Linked DNA regions of Homo sapiens. The protein of the gene in region 1 interacts with the protein of each later gene in a pairwise test. Each region holds a gene or a part of one and is shown on either strand. Other genes may lie near its edges. The genes, in order: PEX7, PHYH, ACOX2 and AGPS.

Region 1 (4,864 bases):
GAAAACATCTTATTAAGTGACATCTCCCAATTTCATCCTTTTGTTTTTTTACGTTAAGGATAAAAAAGTACCTTATTGATTATTTTAATAAGGTAATTATGTTATTCCTACTATTTAAAAAATTCTAAATTTTTTTTTCTTTTTTTTTGAGATGGAGTCTTGCCCTGTCACCCAGACACGATCTCAGCTCACTGCAACCTCTGCCTTCTGGGTTCAAGCTGTTCTCCTGCCTCAGCCTACTGAGTAGCTGGGACTACAGGTGTGCACCACCATGCCCGGCTAATTTTTTTGTATTTTTAGTGGAGACAGGGTTTCACAGTGTTGGCCAGGCTGGTCTTGAACTCCTGACCTCAAGTGATCTGCCTGCCTTAGCCTTCCACAGTGCTGGGATTACAGGCTGAGTCACTGTGCCTGGCCAAAAATTCTAAATTTTTAGTTAAGTTAATATTTTAAGTTTCTCTGGCTGCAATGCAACATAGGAGACACAGTGCTCTGTTTTATTTTTTAATAAATTTGTTTAATTGGACAAGTTTTAGCAGTTGAAAAATATGCTCTATGTATATTTTAGAGTGATTATGAGAATGAAATAAGGTAATGTAGTGAAAGTACTTTGCAAACTAAGTGCTGGTCAAATGTAGTTATATATGTGTATTTAACTATTAAAGTGCGATAAGACAAACACTGAAGAAATGTAATTGCAAAGGTCAACTTATTAAGTACATTATTACTCATCTAGAAGACGTTACTTGTCTTTAAACTTGCTTTTTACCCTTGATATAATTTTCCATTAGCTGTAATATACAAATAACGTAAAAATAACTTAAGGGTGTTTTTATTTAACATTTAAATGTTTATTTTGATAACGTGATTATAGCAATCATATATTTGTAAAATTGGTAAATTATATAATTATATATTTGTACTCTTATATACTTAAATCCCTTATATTTGTAAGAATCATTTTTGTTTATTACTTTGTTTGCTTTTGCTTTTTTTGAGCCAGAGTCTCTCTCTGTCGCCGGGGCTGGAGTGCAGTGGCATGATCTCGGCTCACTGCAACCTCCACCTTCTGGGTTAAAGCAATTCACCTGCTTCAGCTTCCCCAGAAGCTGAGATTATAGGCATATGTGCCACCATGCCCATCTAACTTTTGTATTTTTAGTACAGGCGGGGTTTCACCATGTTGGCCAGGCTGGTCTCGAGCTCCTGACCTGAGGTGATCTGCCCTCCTGAGCCTCCCAAGGTGCTGGGATTACAGGTGTGAGCTGCTGCATCTGGCCTGTAAGAATCATTTTTGGATAGCCAATATGAAATTGTATTTAATTTTTCCAGAATAGCAACATTTTGGGAATATTTTATTCTAAATAAGTTCTAAAAAGCTTGAGGGATAATTTTCTTTGGAGAATGTAAAAATATTTTTCCTGAAGATGGATACTTATAAGGCCAGAAGATTTTTGCCTCAAATTATAGCATATATGCTTTGAAAAAGCATAATTTTAAGTGACAGCTCTGACTCAACTTAAATTTATTATAATGTTTATGGAATGATCATAGAAAGCAGTGTTATAATCACAGCTGACTTCAAAAAGGGTTTTTTTTTTCTTTTTTTTTTTGTAGTTTTCACCATTTCATGCTTCTGTGCTGGCCTCTTGCTCGTATGATTTTACTGTAAGGTACAGTGGTTTTTAATACATTTCATTGTGAAATACCAGGTAACATTTGCATCTTTGCAACTTTTATAAGAGATAATATGATTACTCTTACTAACATGAAAATAATCTGAGATGGGTACATTTAAATATTTACTAGGATTAATATTATATTTTTCCTGTTTTCGTGATCCAGTCACATATATGAGTAAATTTTTTCTCTTCAAATATTAGCCTGGCTATTCTGTTTAAAAGCCATCTTTTCTAATAGATGTTCCTATGGTAACACTTTCCTACACTATAGATGGCATAGCCAATATATTCTAAATTTAGATATAGAAATTTGGAAATTGCATTTCTTCAGGTCTAATTATATGAGTCGTAAGGCTAAGATTGCTTAGATGAAAAAACAATGAACATGAGTGTATGATTTTTTGTGAATGTAGATATATGAACATGTATGTGTATATATGTGCATGGATATCTAGATAAGAGTGTGTGTGGGTGTGGGTCTCTATTTATACTTCCAGTTACAGTTCCATACCACAGAGGATTTATTTTCCCTTTCCAAATTTGTAACTCTTGACTTCCATTTTATTCACAATATATTTTCTTATGTGTTAAACCCTGTAATGCTTAGAAAGTAGTTCAGAATTGCAAAGCCATACCTTTGAAAAAAACAATCTTACTAATTAGAGCTCAGCACTTGCTTAGAGTTTTTTTTGTCTTTAGTTTGAATACTATATTCAGAAGTTACTTAGGTTAATTCTCCTCTTCTCTGTTAGAGTGTGGTTATGTTATTCACTTGAAACATGGTTTGATTCCTTTGTTTCTGTTTGTATTCAATTTTAGGGTTTTCCTCCCATCCTTGTTGATTTTGTCTAGGCAAAACATTGACATGGTTTCAAAAGTCAAGATGTACATAAAGATATATTCAGAAAGGTTTCCAGGATTTTCACTAAAATATATCCTGGAAATCATTCTGTATCAAAGAGATCATTCTCATTCTGCATAATACACCATTGTGTGGATGTGCTATAGTTTATTTGGCTACCCTCCTATCTATGGACATTTAGCTTGTTTTCAATGTTTTGTAAATAAACAGTGCCACAGTGAATGATAGCTTTGTGTTACTAGAGAATTAATGTCTGGTATTCCTAGAAGTGGGATTGCTGAGTTAAAAGGTAAACATATGTAGTTTTGTTAGATATTACCAAATTCCCATCCATAAGGAATATGCCAATTTTGATACTCAGTAGCAATGTTTGAGAGTACCTGTTTCTCTGCCTTCTAAAGATCATTGATTCATTAAGGTTTTCCAGATGTATGATCTTATCACCTGCAAATAAAGGTGGTTCTACACCTTCATTTCCAATTCTGATGCCTCTAATTGATTTTTCTTAAAATTCCCTCCACAAATACCACTAATACAGTGCTAAATAGTTTATAGAGAATGTCTGATTCCTGATATGAGTACAAACGCCTTTAGTGTTTCTCTATTAAAAATAAGATTCTGACTTTAATGCAAATTATATATGTTTACTTGTTTGTCATACTAAGAAAGTATGCATGAATTCCTATTTTCTTGAGTTTTTTTAATTAGGAATGGGTCTTAAGTTTTGTTGAAGGCTTTTTTTCCCAGCATTTATGGAGATAATCATGATTTTTCTTCTTAGAGATATGGCTATGATGTATTATATTAATGGATTGAACCAACCTTGCATTCCTGGAGTAAGTCTCTCACGTTCTTTGTGTATCATTTTCTCACCATGGTGTTGAATTGTGTTTGCTAATATTTTATTTAAAGCTTTTGCGTCAATATTCAAAGGTGATATTAGTTGCAGTTTTCTTTCTTTTCTCGTTTTGTTTAATGTGTCTGTGTTTTACTTGCTTCATAAAAAGAATTAAGAAATTTTCCTTTGTTTCCAAAGCTCTGGAACAACTTGTACAGCATTGAGGCTATTTGGTCTTTGAATCCTTTGTAGGATTGCTCTGCAAAACTAGTGGAGCATGGTGCTTTTTGTGGAGTACTTTCTTGATAACTTCATTTCTTTCATGGAAGTGAGTCTGTTTAAACTTTGTATCTCTAACGGGATCAAGTTTGGAAATTGTCCCTTGCTTTTAGGTTTTCAAATTTATTCGTAGAGGTGTCTGTAAAGTGGGTGGACACAGTGGCTCATGCCTGTATTCCCAGCACTTTGGGAGGCCAAGGTGGGCAGATCACCTGAGGTTAAGGGTTCAAGACCAGCCTGGCCAACATGGTGAAACCCTGTCTCTACTAAAAATAGAAAAATTAGCCACGCATGATGGCAGGTGCCTGTAATCCCAGCTACTTGGGAGGCTGAGGTGGAATTGCTTGAACCCAGAAGGCAGAGATTGCAGTGAGCTAAAATCATACCACTGCACTCCAGCCTGGGTGACAGAGTGAGACTTTGCCTCAAAAAAAAAAAAAAAAAAAAGTCTATAAAGGAATGTTGTAGGATTTCTTCTCTTTCATTGGTTGTTTTACTCTTGTTATTTCTGATTTTGTATCTTTAATAAGTTCTTTGAATATCTAGTGGTATGTTTATTTTGTTATTTTTCTTCAGCAGGCAGAATTTTAATTTATCAATTAGAACTACTTTTTTCAGCTGGGTGCAGTAGCTCATGCGTGTAATCCCAGCACTTTGGGAGGCTGAGGCGGGTGGATCACCTGAGGTCAGGAGTTCAAGACCAGCCTGACCAACATGGTGAAACCCCGTCTCTACTAAAAATACAAAATTAGCTGGGCGTGGTGGCACATGCCTGTAATCCCTGCTACTGGGGAGGCTGAGGCAGGAGAATTGCTTGAACCCAGGTGGCAGAAGTTGCAGTGAGCCGAGATCGTGCCATTGCACTCCAGCCTGGGCAACAAGAGCAAAACTCTGTCTCAAAAAAGAAAAAAAAAGAACTTTTTTTTTTTATTAATCACTGCTTTTATTTTTATTATTTCCTTTTTGGTACTTTCTTTTTGTTGTTCTTTTTTTCAGCTTCTTGAGATAGGAATTTATTTTTATTCTTTCATTTTGTTAAAGTATTTAAGGCTATAAATTTTTTTCTGGTTATTATTCAAACTATAGCCCATAGATTCTGATATATAATGTTTTCATTATCATTTTAAAACATTTGTAAGTTCTGTTTATACTTGCCTTTTCTTCCAAGAGGTGTATAATAGGAAATTATTTAGTTTCCATATG
Region 2 (4,864 bases), on another chromosome or scaffold:
GGCGGATCACTTGAGGTCAGGAGTTCAAAACCAGCTTGGCCAACATGGCAAAACCATATCTCTACTAAAAATACAAAAATTCGCCGGGCATGGTGGCACACGTCGGTAATCCCAGCTACTTGGGAAGCTGAGGCAGGAGAATCACTTGAACCCAGGAGGCAGAGGTTGCAGTGAGCTGAGATCATACCACTGCAGTCCAGCCTGGGCAACAAGAGTGAGACTCTGTCTCAAAAAAAAAAAAAAAAAAGAAGAAGAAGAAGAAAATAAAACAACCCATGATATTCAAATTTTGATTCTGCAAAAAAAAGACTCCAAAAAATAAGCCACCTTCTACTGCTTCCTCACTTTTTGATCTCTTGTGTATAAGGAATATTGGCAATTTGAGTATGAAACCCTGGAAAGGTTATTAAAAGCCTAGCAGTCAGGCACACACTTGCTTTTTATAAAGCCTGGTATTTTTTTGTATTCATCTAGGCTGGGATTTTCTAAATGCCAGCCATTCAAGAGCCATCCTCACAACTTCTGACATAACTTGTACTGTTATTTAGCCAATGATTTCCCTACCCTTAGTTAGCTCACTTGTTTTTTGTTTTTTGTTTTTGTTTTTGTTTTTTTTGAGATGGAGTCTCGCTCTGTTGCCCAGGCTAGGTGCAATGACATGATCTCGGCTCACTGCAACCTCTGCCTCCCGGGTTTAAGCGATTCTCCTGCCTCAGCCTACTGAGTAGTTGGGATTACAGGCGCCCGCCACCATGCCCAGCTAATTTTTGTATTTTTAGTAGAGACTGGGTTTCACCATGTGTCTCAGGCTGGTCTCAAACTTCTGACCTCGTGATCTGCCCACCTCGGCCTCCCAAAGTGCTGGGATTACAGGCATGAGCCACCGCGCCCGGCAGTTAGCTCACTTCTCTTATTCAATCTTTGTTTTTTTCTTTTTTTCCAATATAGACAATGGTCTCACTATGTTGCCAGACTGGTCTTGAACACCTGGCCTCAAGTGATTCTCCTGTTTCAGCCTTCCAAAGTGCCACTTCGCCTGGCCTTTTTATTTAATCTTGTCCTAATTAACAACATTTTTGAAATCATGAGTTTGGTAGACTGTTGAGTTTTTTTCCAATACATTTAAAAATAAATATCTATTAAAATAATTTATACCTCCTAAAATCATGGCATAGACCACCAGATACTGGTCCCATTCTTCAGAAATGTAGGACACTGGCCAGGCGCAGTGACTCATGCCTGTAATCCCAGCACTTTGGGAGGCCGAGGTGGGTGGATCACGAGGTCAGAAGTTCGAGACCAGCCTGAGCAATATGGTGAAACCCTTTCTCTACTAAAAATACAAAAATTAGCCAGGTGTGGTGGCAGGCACCTGTAAACCTAGCTACTTGGGAGGCTGGGGCAGGATAATCACTTGAACCTGGGAGGAAGAGGTTGCAGTGAGCCGAGATCGCACCACTGCACTCCAGCGTGGGCAACAGAGCGAGACTCTGTCTCCAGAAAAGAAAACAAAATAAAACCCACTGATTTTACTCAATTCAACTCCTTTCCATATCCAGCTCTAAGAGCAGTGGTTCCTGGGATCAAGCGATCCACCTGCCTCAGCCTCCCACAGTGCTCGGATTACAGGAGTGAGCCACTGCGCCCGGCCAAATCAGCGGGTTTTACAGGCAGACATACACACTGGCAATTAAGCCGACGCAAAGCAAGGGTGGTCTCTGACCTCGGGGAGAGTGCAGTATCTGAAGAGCTCCTTATCTTCCTGGAAATCCTGGACCTTCGTGATCATCTTCTCACTTGGAGCATATTCGGATTTCGAAATGGTCACATCTCTCATTACTGTTAATCCTAATGGTTTCACCTCCTTTCTGCAGATTTTTTCAAACTCATTCCTAGAAAATTTAATTTGCAAATGATGTCGTTACCGCTGGCTCCAAGCACCTGCCCTGCCCTCCTCTGTGGAAAGGGTTGCAGACTTGAGGGGTGGTTTCTCTGCACTAAGTTGGCCTCCAGCTTGAGGTAGAATAATTCCAATGAAAGGGAGGAGAAACTGTCTGGCTAGAATCCATTCCCAGAATTAAATTATTCCCTAGTTTAGCATACCAGTAGGGAAGTCTTTTTATAATTTGGTTACATTGTAATAATAATAACAGCAAACATTTCTGTAACACTTACCATGTGCCCAGCTCTCTTCAAAGTGGTTTCCATATATTTCACCGTATTTAGTCCTAATAACAACACTAGGACATAAGTGCTATTATTATCCCCATTTTACAGATGAGGAAACAGAGGCATGGGATGTGAAGTAAATTGCCCCAGGACACATGATATTAAGTGGTGGAGCTGAGACTGAAGCCCAGGCATGGTGGCTCCCGACTGTAATCCCAGCAACTCAGGAGGGTGAGGCCAGGAGTTCAAGACCAGCCTGGGCAACATAGTGAGACTCCCTGTCTCTAAAAACAAAGAAATAAAAAATTAGCTGGGTATGGTGGTGCACAACTGTGGTCCCAGCTACTCAGGAGGCTGAGGCAAGAGGATTGCTTGAGCCCAGGAACTTGAGGCCGCAGTAAGCTATGATCGCACCACTGCACTCAGCCTACACAACAGAGTGAGAACCTTTCTCTATAAAAAATAAAAAGCCAGTCTGGCACCAGAGCCCATGCTTCTAAACACTTCCCAACAAACCAAATCATTAAAAAACATCTGTAAAGCCAGGAGCGAATCCACCTTGTATTCTCATTACATGCACACAATACATACTATTGTAAAATAACAAATAGTGTTACTGTACCGAAAGCGTTGAATATCGGCATCAGGTACAAGATTTTTGATTACTAGAAACCCATTTTCTTCATAAAATTTTCTCTGTTCCAGGGTTAGAACGTTATTATCCAGAGTATACCTAAAGGAGAAAAAGAATCCCAAAATAAGTTACATTTTTAAATTACAGGCTAGGCACAATGGCTCACACCTCTAATACTAGCACTTTAGCGGGCCGAGGCAAGTGGATCACTTGAGGTCAGGAGTTTGAGACTAGCCCAGGCAACATGATGAAACCCTGTCTCTACAAAAAATACTGGTTGTGCCACTCCACTCCAGCATGGGCGACAGAGTGAGACCCTGTCTCAAAAAAAAAAAAAAAATTTAAATTACATCCTAAAAATATGTATCAAGAACCTGAGGCTAGGCGTGGGGGCTCATGCCTATAATCCCAGCACTTTGGGAGGCCGAGGCAGGTGGATCGCCTGAGGTCAGGAGTCTGAGACGAACCTGACCAACATGGTGAAACCCCATGTTTACTGAAAACACAAAGTTTAGCCAGGCATGGTAGTGGGCACCTGTAATCCCAGCTACCCGGGAGGTTGAGGCAGGAAAATCGCTTGAACTTGGGAGGCGGAGGTTGCAGTGAGCTCTGATCATGGCACTGCACTCCAGCCTGGGCGACAGAGCCAGACTCCGTCTCAAAAAACAAAAACAAAGACAAAAACAAGAACCTAGGAAACGTTCATGCTCTTCAATTCAGCATTTCTAAGACCAAGGAAATAATCTGAAAACTTACGCTTTATGTCACCAAAACAAGTGCATTAGTGGGCCGGGCACAGTGGCTCATGCCTGTAATCCCAGCTTTTTGGGAGGCTGAGGCAGGTGGATCACCTGAGGTCGGGAGTTCGAGACCAGCCTGACTCACATGATGAAACCCCATCTCTACTAAAAATACAAAAATTAGCGTGCCTGTAATCCCAGCTACTCAAGAGGATGAGGCAGGAGAATCGCTAGAACCTGTGGGGGTGGAGATTGCAGTGAGCCAGGATTGCACCAGTGCACTCCAGCCTGGGTGACAGAGCAAGGCTCCATCTCAGAAAAAAAAAAAAAAAAAAAAGTGCATTAGTGGAAGAAAAATTAACTAGTGACACTATGTTCACTCAGTGGAATATGACTCAGACATTAAAAATTAAGGCCATATAATAGTATGGATGGCGGGCACAGTGGCTCATGCCTGTAATCCTAGCTTTGGGAGGCTGAGGTGGGCGGATCACGAGGTCAGATCGGGACCATCCTGGCTAACACGGTGAAACCCGCCTCTACTAAAAATGCAAAAAATTAGCCCGGCATGGTGTCTGGCGCCTGTAGTCCAGCTACTGGAGAGGCTGAGGCAGGAGAATGGCGTGAACCCGGGAGGCGGAGCTTGCAGTGAAGCAAGATGGCACCACTGCACTCCAGCCTGGGCGACAGAGCCAGACTCGGTCTCAAAATAAAATAAAATATAATAAAATATAATAAAATAAAAAATAGTATGGACAATGCTTATTATAATAAAATATTATTACAATTATGTAAAACCAAGACACTATATGAAAAAAAGAAAAGCCTGCAAAGAAATACACCAAAGCAATTTTTAACAGTGATTGCCTTTAGAAATGGAATTAGGGATGATTTTTTAAAATTCCTTCTATTTCTCTGATGTTTCTGTAATGAATACATATGATTTTTCAGATGGGAAACAAATTCAATAAATTGTATATTTTTAACTGTCCAGTTGATGCATTCCAAGAAGGTAAAGTAACAAAATCCAAATAAATGTACAGCATACCCATAAACTCAAATCACCCAACCTATTCCTTAAGATCGGAATTGTGGTTGTATGAGAATATTTAGGAAGGTCAAGATCTTCCCCTTTAAAGGTGATTTAAGATAAACCAAAGATGCTAGCTAATATGTCCATATAACCAAATACAAGCTAATTTGTTTTGTTTTGTTTTGTTTTTTGAGATGGAGTCTGGCTCTATCACCCAGGCTGGAGTTCAGTGGCGTGATCTCAGCTCACTGCAACCTTGACTTCCAAGGTTCAAGCGATTCTCCCACT
Region 3 (4,864 bases), on another chromosome or scaffold:
GGAGGCTGAGGTGGGAGGATTCCTTGAGCCCAGGAGTGCAAGGATGCAGTGAGCTGTGATTGTGCCACTGCACTCCAGTCCAGCCTGAGCAGCAGAGTGAGACGCTGTCTCAAAAAAGAAAAACAAACAAATTTATTGCTCACAGTTCTGGAGGCTGGGAAGTCCAAGGTCAAGGCACTAGTGCATTTGGTGTCAGGTGAGGGCCTGCTTCCTGAACGGCTTTTTGCTGTGTCCTCAAATGGTAGAAGCAGCCTCTTTCTTTCTTTTTTTTTTTTTTCCTGAGACAGTCTCACTCTGTCACCCAGGCTGGAGTGCAGTGGTACAATCTTGGCTCACTGCAACCTCCGCCTCCCAGGTTCAAGAGATTCTCCTGCCTCAGCCTCCTGTGTAGCTGGGACTACAAGTGCACGCCACCACGCCCAGCTAATTTTTGTATTTTTAGTAGAGACGGGGTTTCACTATGTTGGCCAGGATGGCCTCGATCTCCTGACCTCGTGATCCACCTGCCTTGGCCTCCCAAAGTGCTGGGATTGCAGGTGTGAGCCACCACACCCAGCCAGAAGCAGCCTCTTTCATGAGGGCACTGATCCCATTCATGAGGCCTCCACCCTCATGACTTAATTACCTCCTGAAGGCCCCAACTCCTACTACCATCATAATACCTCCTAATCCTAGTCCTAATCATCAATACCTCCTAATCCTAGCCCTAACCCTTGAGGGTTAGGATTTCTACATAAGAATTTTAGGTGGACACATTCAGACCCTGTCACCCTCCTACAACCCAGTAAGTGGGCTTACAGTGGACACCCATCCTCATAAGCTAGCTTTCTAAAACCCAGGCCAGCAAAATCCGTAACTCCTGGAGGTTTGTGGGCCCAATCCAGGCAGCACCCTCTTCCCAATCCTGGAGACACTGGCCAGGCCAGGTTTTCCTTCACTCTTATGCCCCTACAGCTACATTGCCTAATTGTGTGCCTCTGGGTGAGTCACATAAGCTGAGTACCCGCCTTCTCATTCATAAAGTTGTGAGCAGAGGAAACACTTCTTACCTCAGAGCTGAGCTGGGCATGAGTAGATGCTCAGTAAGTGGTGCACAGGGTTGGTCCCTATGGTGGAGGCCCCCTAACACCGCCCAACCCCCCTCCATGTTCTCACAGCTCCACGCACTGAGCACGGGCATGAAGGCCATGATGTCAGAATTCTGCACCCAGGGAGCTGAGATGTGCCGCAGGGCCTGTGGCGGACATGGCTACTCAAAGCTGAGTGGCCTGCCATCACTGGTCACCAAATTGTCGGCCTCCTGTACCTACGAGGGTGAGAACACAGTGCTCTACCTGCAGGTGGCCAGGTAAGGTCCAGGCTGACCCAGGCCTTTGCCCAAGCCCTTGGGGACCCACCAAGCTTCTGTTGGGTGGAGGGTTCCGTCTGAGGCCCATAAAAAGAGCAGGCTTTGCGAAGTGCTATTTGGGAGCTGTCCAATTCCCCAGTATGACTAACCTATCCACTTCTAGGCCACCATCCTCTCTCACCTCCACCACAGCCTCAGACCCCTCCCTGGTCTCTTGCTTCTATCCTGTCCTGCTTCTCCACAGGCAGCCGGAGGGATCTGTTCAGAGCCTAGGGAGGATCACATCTTTCTCTGGTTTGAAATTCTTCAACGGCTTCCCAGTGCTCATAGGAAAATGACATATTCTATGCTGTGGCCTGCAAGGTCCATGTGACCTGACCCCTGCCTCCCCGTCCATCCTGCTCTCACCACCTCCTGCCTCTGCTCACTTCTTCTTCTTCTTTTTTTTTTTGAGATGGAGTCTCACTGTCACCCAGGCTGGAGTGCAGTGGTGCAATCTCGGCTCACTGCAACCTCTGCCCGCCGGGTTCAAGCAATTCTCCTGCCTTAGCCTCCGCAGTAGCTGGGATTACACACCACCATGCCCATCTAATTTTTGTATTTTTAGTAGAGATGGGGTTTCACCATGTTGGCCAGGCTGCTCTCCAACTCCTGACCTCAGGTGATCCACCTGCCTTAGCCTCCCAAAGTGCTGGGATTACAGGCACAAGCCACCGCACCCAGCCACCTCTGCTCACTTCTGCCGGCCACACACTTCTTTCTGTCCAGGAGGCCTTTGCATTTGATCCCCTCCCACCCAACATGGCCTTGTTTCCTTTGGAGCAGTTTCACAATCTATCATTGTCTCATTTTTTTGTTCACCTTTTTAGCTCTACTCTCCAACTAGATTAGGAGCTCCCTGAGGGCAGGGACTACCCCTACCTTGCTCGCTTTAGCATCGCCTAAGCTTGGTGCAGAGCCTGCACACAGAGGCTCCAAGCAATGGCCAAGTCAGCTTCCTCCACACAGGCGATTTCTTTTCATCCCTCTTAGGTCTGTGGGCCCTGGAGGCCGACAGAGCCTCATCCTCACCTATTCTCAGGTGAACAAACAGGGCAAATGCTTCCCTATGCAAGGAGAAAGAAGTTCACTGGCAAATATGAAAAACAACATTTATTATATTTTTAAAAATATATAACATCCCTTGGTTTTTTTCCAAATTAGAAAAGGAGTACAATAGCACATATTATGTACTCTGCACTGTGCCAAGCACTCTACAAATATCATCTCATTCCATTTCACAAACCCTCAATCAGATGAGAACTGTCCTCCCCACCTAGAGCTAGAGAAACAGAGACTTGGGAGGTGAAGCTTCTTTCATCACACAGGTCTCGGCGAGGCTGTATGGGAATCCAGGGCTGTCTAAGCCCAGAACCTGTAACCACTGGATTATCCTAAAGCAGCAGTTGAGAGTCACCTATAATCCTCCTACTCCTGTTAGCATTCTTGCCTCTATCCTTCTTTTTTCAGCTAAGAAAATTTAATTTCCACCCAGTCACTGTACAAGTCATTATAAATCCCAAAATCACAGTGTTCTGATGGAAAATTCTGTTTGCTCAGATCACAGAAGGGTTTATGTTCAGGATCAGAGAGTGTCTGGCCCAGCTCCACAGGTCCTGGGATATGCCTGACTGAGGGCCTCGAGGCAGGACGGCCCGAGGGGGAACCCTCAGGAGGGAGGCCAGGCAGAGGCCTGGTGACCTGGCTCTCCCACGGGAAGGCTGGAACCTAGCATGAGCTTGCCTGTCTCTGGGAGTGAGGGGTGCTGGGCTGTCTCACAGAGTCTCTGCCCTCTCACCTGCCTCCTCTTCCAACCCCCAGGTTCCTGGTGAAGAGCTACCTGCAGACTCAGATGTCCCCTGGCTCCACGCCACAGAGATCTCTCTCTCCATCTGTCGCATATCTCACCGCACCTGACCTGGCCAGGTGTCCAGCCCAGAGGGCAGCCGACTTCCTCTGCCCGGAGCTCTACACCACGGCCTGGGCACATGTGGCAGTAAGGTAAGCCAGTGCTGAGAAATCAGCCATCCCACCTGGGCACAGGCTCCATGCCACACTAGGGCCTTTGGATTGGTTGGGTGGACATTCGTGGATTCAGTTCTAAAAACCACCCCATGCCTAGCCTCCCCGGTCCTCTCAGTTCCTGCCACCATGGGCAGAGAGAGGGGATGTCCCCCCCATCAGCCATGGACCCCCGTCACTTCCCCATCCTGGTCACAGTAGTAGAAGGACATCACACCTCTGGCCAGTGAGATATTTTTAAAATCTCTAGGGTCCTATGGTGATTTGCAATACAACGAATGTACCCATATGTAAATACTCCAAATGTATTGATATGCAAATACCAATAAATAAAGCAATACTCACTCGTACGTTTGAAATATCCCATAATCTAAAAATAATTTTTGAAAATATGACTACACCACGGGATAGAATTCATTTATTTCCAGGGTCTAGTAGGCTCCAGGGAACATGGACAAAACCAAGGACTCATCCATTCTGTCATTCAACAAATATTGTTCAGTACCTACTATGTGTTAGGAATGAACAAATGTGCCAGGGGCTGGGAATAGAGAGGTCCTGACCAAACACACATACCACCATGGAAAAGATGGAGGTTTAACTACCTAAAAAGAAAACGTTCTGAATGCTGCCCCCAAATTAAAACACCGAAAACAGGCTGGGCATGGTGGCTGACACCAGTAATTCCAGCACTTTGGGAGGTCGAGGTGGGCGGATTGCTTGAGCTCAGGAGTTTGAGACCAGCTTCGGCAACATGGTGAAACCCCACCTCTACCAAAAATACAAAAAATTTTAATAAAAAAATAAAAAGGAAACACCAAAAACAAACTGGAAAAACATATTTTCAGTATATAATAAGAGGTCTTATATCCCAACCTGTGGTCCCAGGGATGGTTAATAGTTATTTCAAGATCACAAGCAACTTGGAACATTCATTTATTTATTCCAAAAATATTTATTAACTGCCTATAATATGGCAGGCACTGTTCTAGGCATTAGGGACCTATCAGTAAATAGGCCTGATAAACACCCCAAACTCATAGAGCTAACATTTCAATTGGGAGATTTGAGGAGGGGAAGATAAGGCTGCTCGAGGTGATTAAAGTGTCATGGTATTTCTCCTTGCTTGAAACTCAGTGTGACATCTGCTTATCTATTCCCTGACAAAGCAAAAAACATATTGCTTAATAAACAGTTTGCTTTACACACAAATTCTAAGGGTCATGGATGGATGGGCAGGGAATAGAAAATAAGAGGGGATTAAAGGTTATTTAATGACTAATTTAGTGGTTTGCAGGACAAAGGTTGGTTTTCTCTTTTTGTTTTTAGGTCCCTTGGGTAGAACCTGCAGCAGGCTAGGTGACCGACGGGCCTCTCTAGCCTTTACAGAAAAACCATTCTCCTTGCTCAGGCCACAGGACGTCAGTCAACAAAAAGGCCTGAACATACTGGTGT
Region 4 (4,864 bases), on another chromosome or scaffold:
TTTTTTTTTAAATTAGTATACATGCATAAAACCTTGTATCATCAATATACAAATTATTCTGTTAGGGGACATGTTTTTGTTCTCCATGTTTCTGTTTCTATTGTGGTATGAGTTGTATTTGTATCACTGAGATAACCTATTGTTATATTCTAATTCATTGATAATATGTTTTGTAAGAAAAGCTGACATCCTTCATTGCAAGTGAAGAACAGGTTTACCATGAAATGAATGCCTTTATTCAACTTAGAGTCCTAATGTTTCTGATTTCACATTCTTGTTGCTGAAATGCAGAAGAAACAGCTACAGCAAGAGCAGAAGGAAAACTCTTAGACTTAATGTCTCCAATTGCAAGAATTGTTTCACTAAAGAAACAGTCATCATTCAACTACTGAATTTGAAAGCCTCAGCAGTTTCAATGACAAAAATCATTTTTGATTTTTTAAAATTAATCCCAATGGCATGATAAATTTTCATATAAAAAGTAAAGTTTCAATTTAGTTTTTAATAATGGTTTAATGCCTTTTTTGAATAACTGGTTTAACCTAATTTTTTTTAAATGTAATGTATTAATGCATATACCATAATCAAAAGTTTGAAATATCCTGTTTCTTAAATAATGAGAACATTAATCACATTTAGCAAGCATTTGTACATTCAAACCTGGATATTAAAGTGAAATGATTACTTTGAATCACTGTCTGCCAAGGTTCATGATTCACATTTTGAGATGGATTCTTTTCTTAATGCAATACCTAACTTTTGATAATTTTTTAAAACTAATATTTGATCAGATAATGTAAGTCAAAATGCAGACGATCCTTTAAAAGGATGCATTGTCTGTGTATGTAGCAACAGCTCCAAAGTATTTTTGGGCAGTTTGATACCTTTTATATCTGAAGTAGCCTTAACCAGAAAAATGGTAATTTAAAATTGACAAAATGATATTTTTAAGACTTCAAAATGATAAATAATTTTTAACTATTAAAATTGGCCTCAAACTAATAAATCTGTAATTAAATTAGAATTAAATATCAGTTTAACAACAAAATGAAATATTTATTTTTTAGAAGCTGCCTCTCTTCATTGGTCATTTATTTTTAATTATAAAATTTCCAACAGATCTTTGCTTTAAGCCCTTGATATTTGACCTAGTTGGACACTTGATGAGGAAGTTGCCTCTAGAATTATAAAAATCTCAGCTTTATAAAATGCATCTGTTCACGAAGGTAATTTCTTTAATTGGTGATCAAAATATAAAATTAAGGTACTAATGTCTCACTGGAAGTATATATATATATATATATATATGTATGCATGTGTGTGTGTGTATATATATATATATATATATGTATATGTTTCTGAGTAATTTTTAAAAAATAAAACAGGTTAATAAGAAGATCCATTCCTTTGCATGTGATTGTTATAACATTCTTTCCCAGGGAGTTCAATTTCAGCAACCTCAGAAATCCATACTTGATATTAGGAAACTGTAAATGTAACACCTGAAATTATTATGTTCACTATTCTACATGAACCTTATGGAAATTCATGATTTATGTCTTTGTTTTTCTTTTTCCAAGTATATGCAGGACTCCCCAACCTTGATTTTATAATGGTGACTGCATTTTGTAGGTGGAATCATTTCTACCGAAATCATTTTGAAACACAAGAATATTGATCAGTACTGTTTCACTCTGATTTAGTAAATCAGAAAGCCTCCCCCTACCCCCAGCCCCCACTTTCACATACCTTCTGGGAGGTGCCTCAGTATAGACTTGGTATCTGTGAAGGACTGAGTTCATGAATATGCACAGAAGCACTTAAACCATGCCTCTTATTTCTATAATATCTGAAAATGGCTTCATAAAAGTTAAGTCAGGAGAACACTGTTTACATGACACTTCTTAACTCATTTTTAATGTTTATTTTTAATTTCAAAAACTTGTTGCCTATTTGGTTTTCAGTACTGCATAACACTGACTTTCTTAAATTAGTCATAGTTGCAATAATTTACTTAAATTTGGTAATGTCACATTTGGGTTGGGGTTTCAGTGGGAATAGTAACTTGCCGCTAGTGAGAAATGGCATTGAATACTAAAGACTCAATATGAACAGGCTTTATAGACCCTTAGAGAAACTGTTGCCTTAATGTTTGGTGCAATTTCTAGTAGTGCATAAGTGAATTTAGTCTTATGATAAGTAACTTTGAGCTGTTTTTAGCTTAGTAAGAATTGTGGAAACCACATGTTTATTGTGCCCATCATTTTACACAAAGAAAAGAGGATTATATTATTTCTTCTAAGGAAGTAGGAGTTTTCTTCCTAAAAGTGCTTACATATTGTAGTACTATTACTTAAAAGTTATTTATGAAGTTGGGAGCCTTCTAGTTTGCCTGTGTTGATGTATTTTGAAAACAAAATTGCAATAAAGGATGAGCTTCCATCGGTGTGTATGGTATACCAGATACAGATGGTTGCAAGGAAACCTTTTCCCCCACTAGAATAGTCTATTAGTAACTGCTAAGTCCTAGCTTGCATTTTTGAAAATGCCTTTCTGCATGTTAGCACCCAGACTTTCCTTTGTCATATTCCTTTATAGCTACAACTTAACTGTAGCTTATCAGAGAAGCTCTGTAGTCCTACACTGAAGTGTGTTCCCTTGGCTGTTCATATGGGGCTGGGTTTGGTTGAACTTCCATTCTGTATAAATGCTAGAACACAGTTACTACAGATTGATTCACAAACTGCATGTGCTGGTGCTTGAGGCAGCCAAAATGGAATGCTGTGGAAAGCATATCTATATCTTAAAAAACACTCAGACAGGAGTTAAGGACAGCTTTAATAATTTTTTTGTTTACCACTTAATCTTTATCAACTTTGATTTTAGTTAGGGCTTAGCTCATGGTTGAAGAAAAGTGGAAAATAACAAGTGCCCATTTAGGTTTGAAGAATCCAGAATGTTTTACCTTTGACTTTATGAGTTATAGAAGCTTGGCTTTGCTCTAGGCTTCATGTTCCCAAATGAGCCATCTGTCAGTATATTCACTTAATTCTTACTAATTTCAGTTTCCTGTAAAGGAAACAACTTACATATTGATGCTTAAATCCAGAAAGTGTAAAAGGTTTTCTTAAACTGTTAAAATATAGTGTCTGATATAAAGGATGTAAGTTACTCAGCTTTCTGCTCCCTAAGCCAAACAGTGTTTGTCTTCAGTGTGAAATTTAACTGTAAAAACTACTTGTAATGTCAAGAGATTATAGATCATATTATTAATAAAATGGACCTGGGTCTAATATTTTTTTTCTTCAAAGGGAGTGTGAAGCTGTTTATTCTTTTATTTGCATATGAGTTTTTCTTTTAGTTTTAGTTTTTCATGTTCATATTTCCACTGATTTGAAAACACAAAATTTATTTTTATAATTTTGTTGCTTGTAGCATAATCAAGTGCAAAATCAAGTGCAACCTACTTGTGACTAAATCTCTTTGGATTTATAGCTGAGGATATTGTTAGCTAGGTTTTGTCAATCCCTAATCATTTTTTAAAATCAATGCTGTATTCCCAGGAGGCTTTGAGACTCCTATGAACCTGAAGCACTCCCTTTTGAACCTTGGAAGATCCTCAAAGAGTGAGCACTCTTGTGCTCTTCTAATCATAATTAATTCCTTAACAAATCAGAGTAAGGACCACTGACATATAGAACCCTCAAGCCAAAGAACCATCACAGAATTTAGTAACTTTAGTTCTGTGAACATGAAAAGATTTCTTTTTTGGTTTCCAAAGGAGATTATTTATTTTTCCACAAGGAAAAACATCTTGCAGAGACTCTGAATTCCAAATCTGAGTGAGAAAGAAAAGGAAAAAAATCTGTTTCATGGTGGATTTCTAAGCAACATATATACATGTTTTTAAGACAACCTTTTGTTGGCAGTGTTTTTCCTGAACACCATATGCACCCTAGGAAACATGTTTTTCCTTTAATCTTGTTCACATATCAGAAAAGGACATGAAATGCTCATACTGGCATACAAGTTTCTATAAGTAGTTATTTTTTGAGCTACTTATACTATATCCCCAAAAGCTCACAGTGCCTTGTTGGGATTTTTTTTTTCCATGAACTAGCCATTATTTTAAATGAGTGGGAGAGGGTAAGTCTTTAGACAGAGGTCATTCAGCAGTTCAAGACTATTCCTCTTCAAGAACATGTCAGGAATTAAGCAGTTATATGTGGAAACACTGGTAATTCTTTCCACAGTGTTGTTTTGGATAATCTGTTCTAGTATATTTAACTAATTGTATGGTGGACCTGTACTCTGATACACATCGAATCAGTCAATGGGATTTGTATGTGCTTTTCCTTCCTACATTTTCATTCCTACTGCCCCAACCTAGTAGCCCTAAGTTGTGGCTTGGTGGGTTTGGCATTGAGCCTCAAGACACTCACTACATTCTTTCTGGATGTTTGCTCACAGGCTCCCTGAGGAGCAGAACCTGTGGAGCTGGGGAGTGCGGGTGGTTTCTATTCCTAATATTGTGTGTCAGTCCTTTTTCGTGTGATGGTGCCTTCAGAATAACGAATATTTCTGTTCTGGACAATGATTAAATCTTATGAGAAATATATGTAGGTTATATTAATTCTTGTCCATTTTTGCTAAGCCTGTGAAATACTTTGGCTCTGATACAACTTAACTTGAATAATATCTTATCCTGAGTCTTCCTCCAAGGCAGTACATATTCCTGCCAGGACTGTAGTAATCCTTTGGGAACTACATGTGAGTAAGCACTTGTATGTAAGCCATTATACTGCTGTAACTAATGCATACAAACAATTCTTCTCTTTACATTTATAGTCTAAAAGGGGATATG

What was found.
Region 2: the proteins of PEX7 (region 1) and PHYH interact in a two-hybrid assay, tested with the Homo sapiens proteins (2 studies listed by BioGRID, with this or other methods).
Region 3: the proteins of PEX7 (region 1) and ACOX2 come close enough for resonance energy transfer, tested with the Homo sapiens proteins (one large-scale study listed by BioGRID).
Region 4: the proteins of PEX7 (region 1) and AGPS come close enough for resonance energy transfer, tested with the Homo sapiens proteins (one large-scale study listed by BioGRID).

What each region holds. Positions count from the first base shown.
Region 1 is NC_000006.12:136,870,581-136,875,444, forward strand, and holds part of PEX7 (peroxisomal biogenesis factor 7), read left to right. Parts: intron 1-1,617; coding exon 1,618-1,673; intron 1,674-4,864. UniProt on the Homo sapiens protein: Receptor required for the peroxisomal import of proteins containing a C-terminal PTS2-type peroxisomal targeting signal. Specifically binds to cargo proteins containing a PTS2 peroxisomal targeting signal in the cytosol.
Region 2 is NC_000010.11:13,292,705-13,297,568, forward strand, and holds part of PHYH (phytanoyl-CoA dioxygenase, peroxisomal isoform a precursor), read right to left. Parts: intron 2,903-4,864; coding exon 2,792-2,902; intron 1,893-2,791; coding exon 1,724-1,892; intron 1-1,723. UniProt on the Homo sapiens protein: Catalyzes the 2-hydroxylation of not only racemic phytanoyl-CoA and the isomers of 3-methylhexadecanoyl-CoA, but also a variety of other mono-branched 3-methylacyl-CoA esters (with a chain length of at least seven carbon atoms) and straight-chain acyl-CoA esters (with a chain length longer than four carbon atoms).
Region 3 is NC_000003.12:58,522,950-58,527,813, reverse strand, and holds part of ACOX2 (peroxisomal acyl-coenzyme A oxidase 2), read left to right. Parts: intron 1-1,157; coding exon 1,158-1,348; intron 1,349-3,208; coding exon 3,209-3,388; intron 3,389-4,864. UniProt on the Homo sapiens protein: Oxidizes the CoA esters of the bile acid intermediates di- and tri-hydroxycholestanoic acids. Capable of oxidizing short as well as long chain 2-methyl branched fatty acids.
Region 4 is NC_000002.12:177,538,747-177,543,610, forward strand, and holds part of AGPS (alkyldihydroxyacetonephosphate synthase, peroxisomal precursor), read left to right. Parts: 3' UTR 1-4,864. UniProt on the Homo sapiens protein: Catalyzes the exchange of the acyl chain in acyl-dihydroxyacetonephosphate (acyl-DHAP) for a long chain fatty alcohol, yielding the first ether linked intermediate, i.e. alkyl-dihydroxyacetonephosphate (alkyl-DHAP), in the pathway of ether lipid biosynthesis.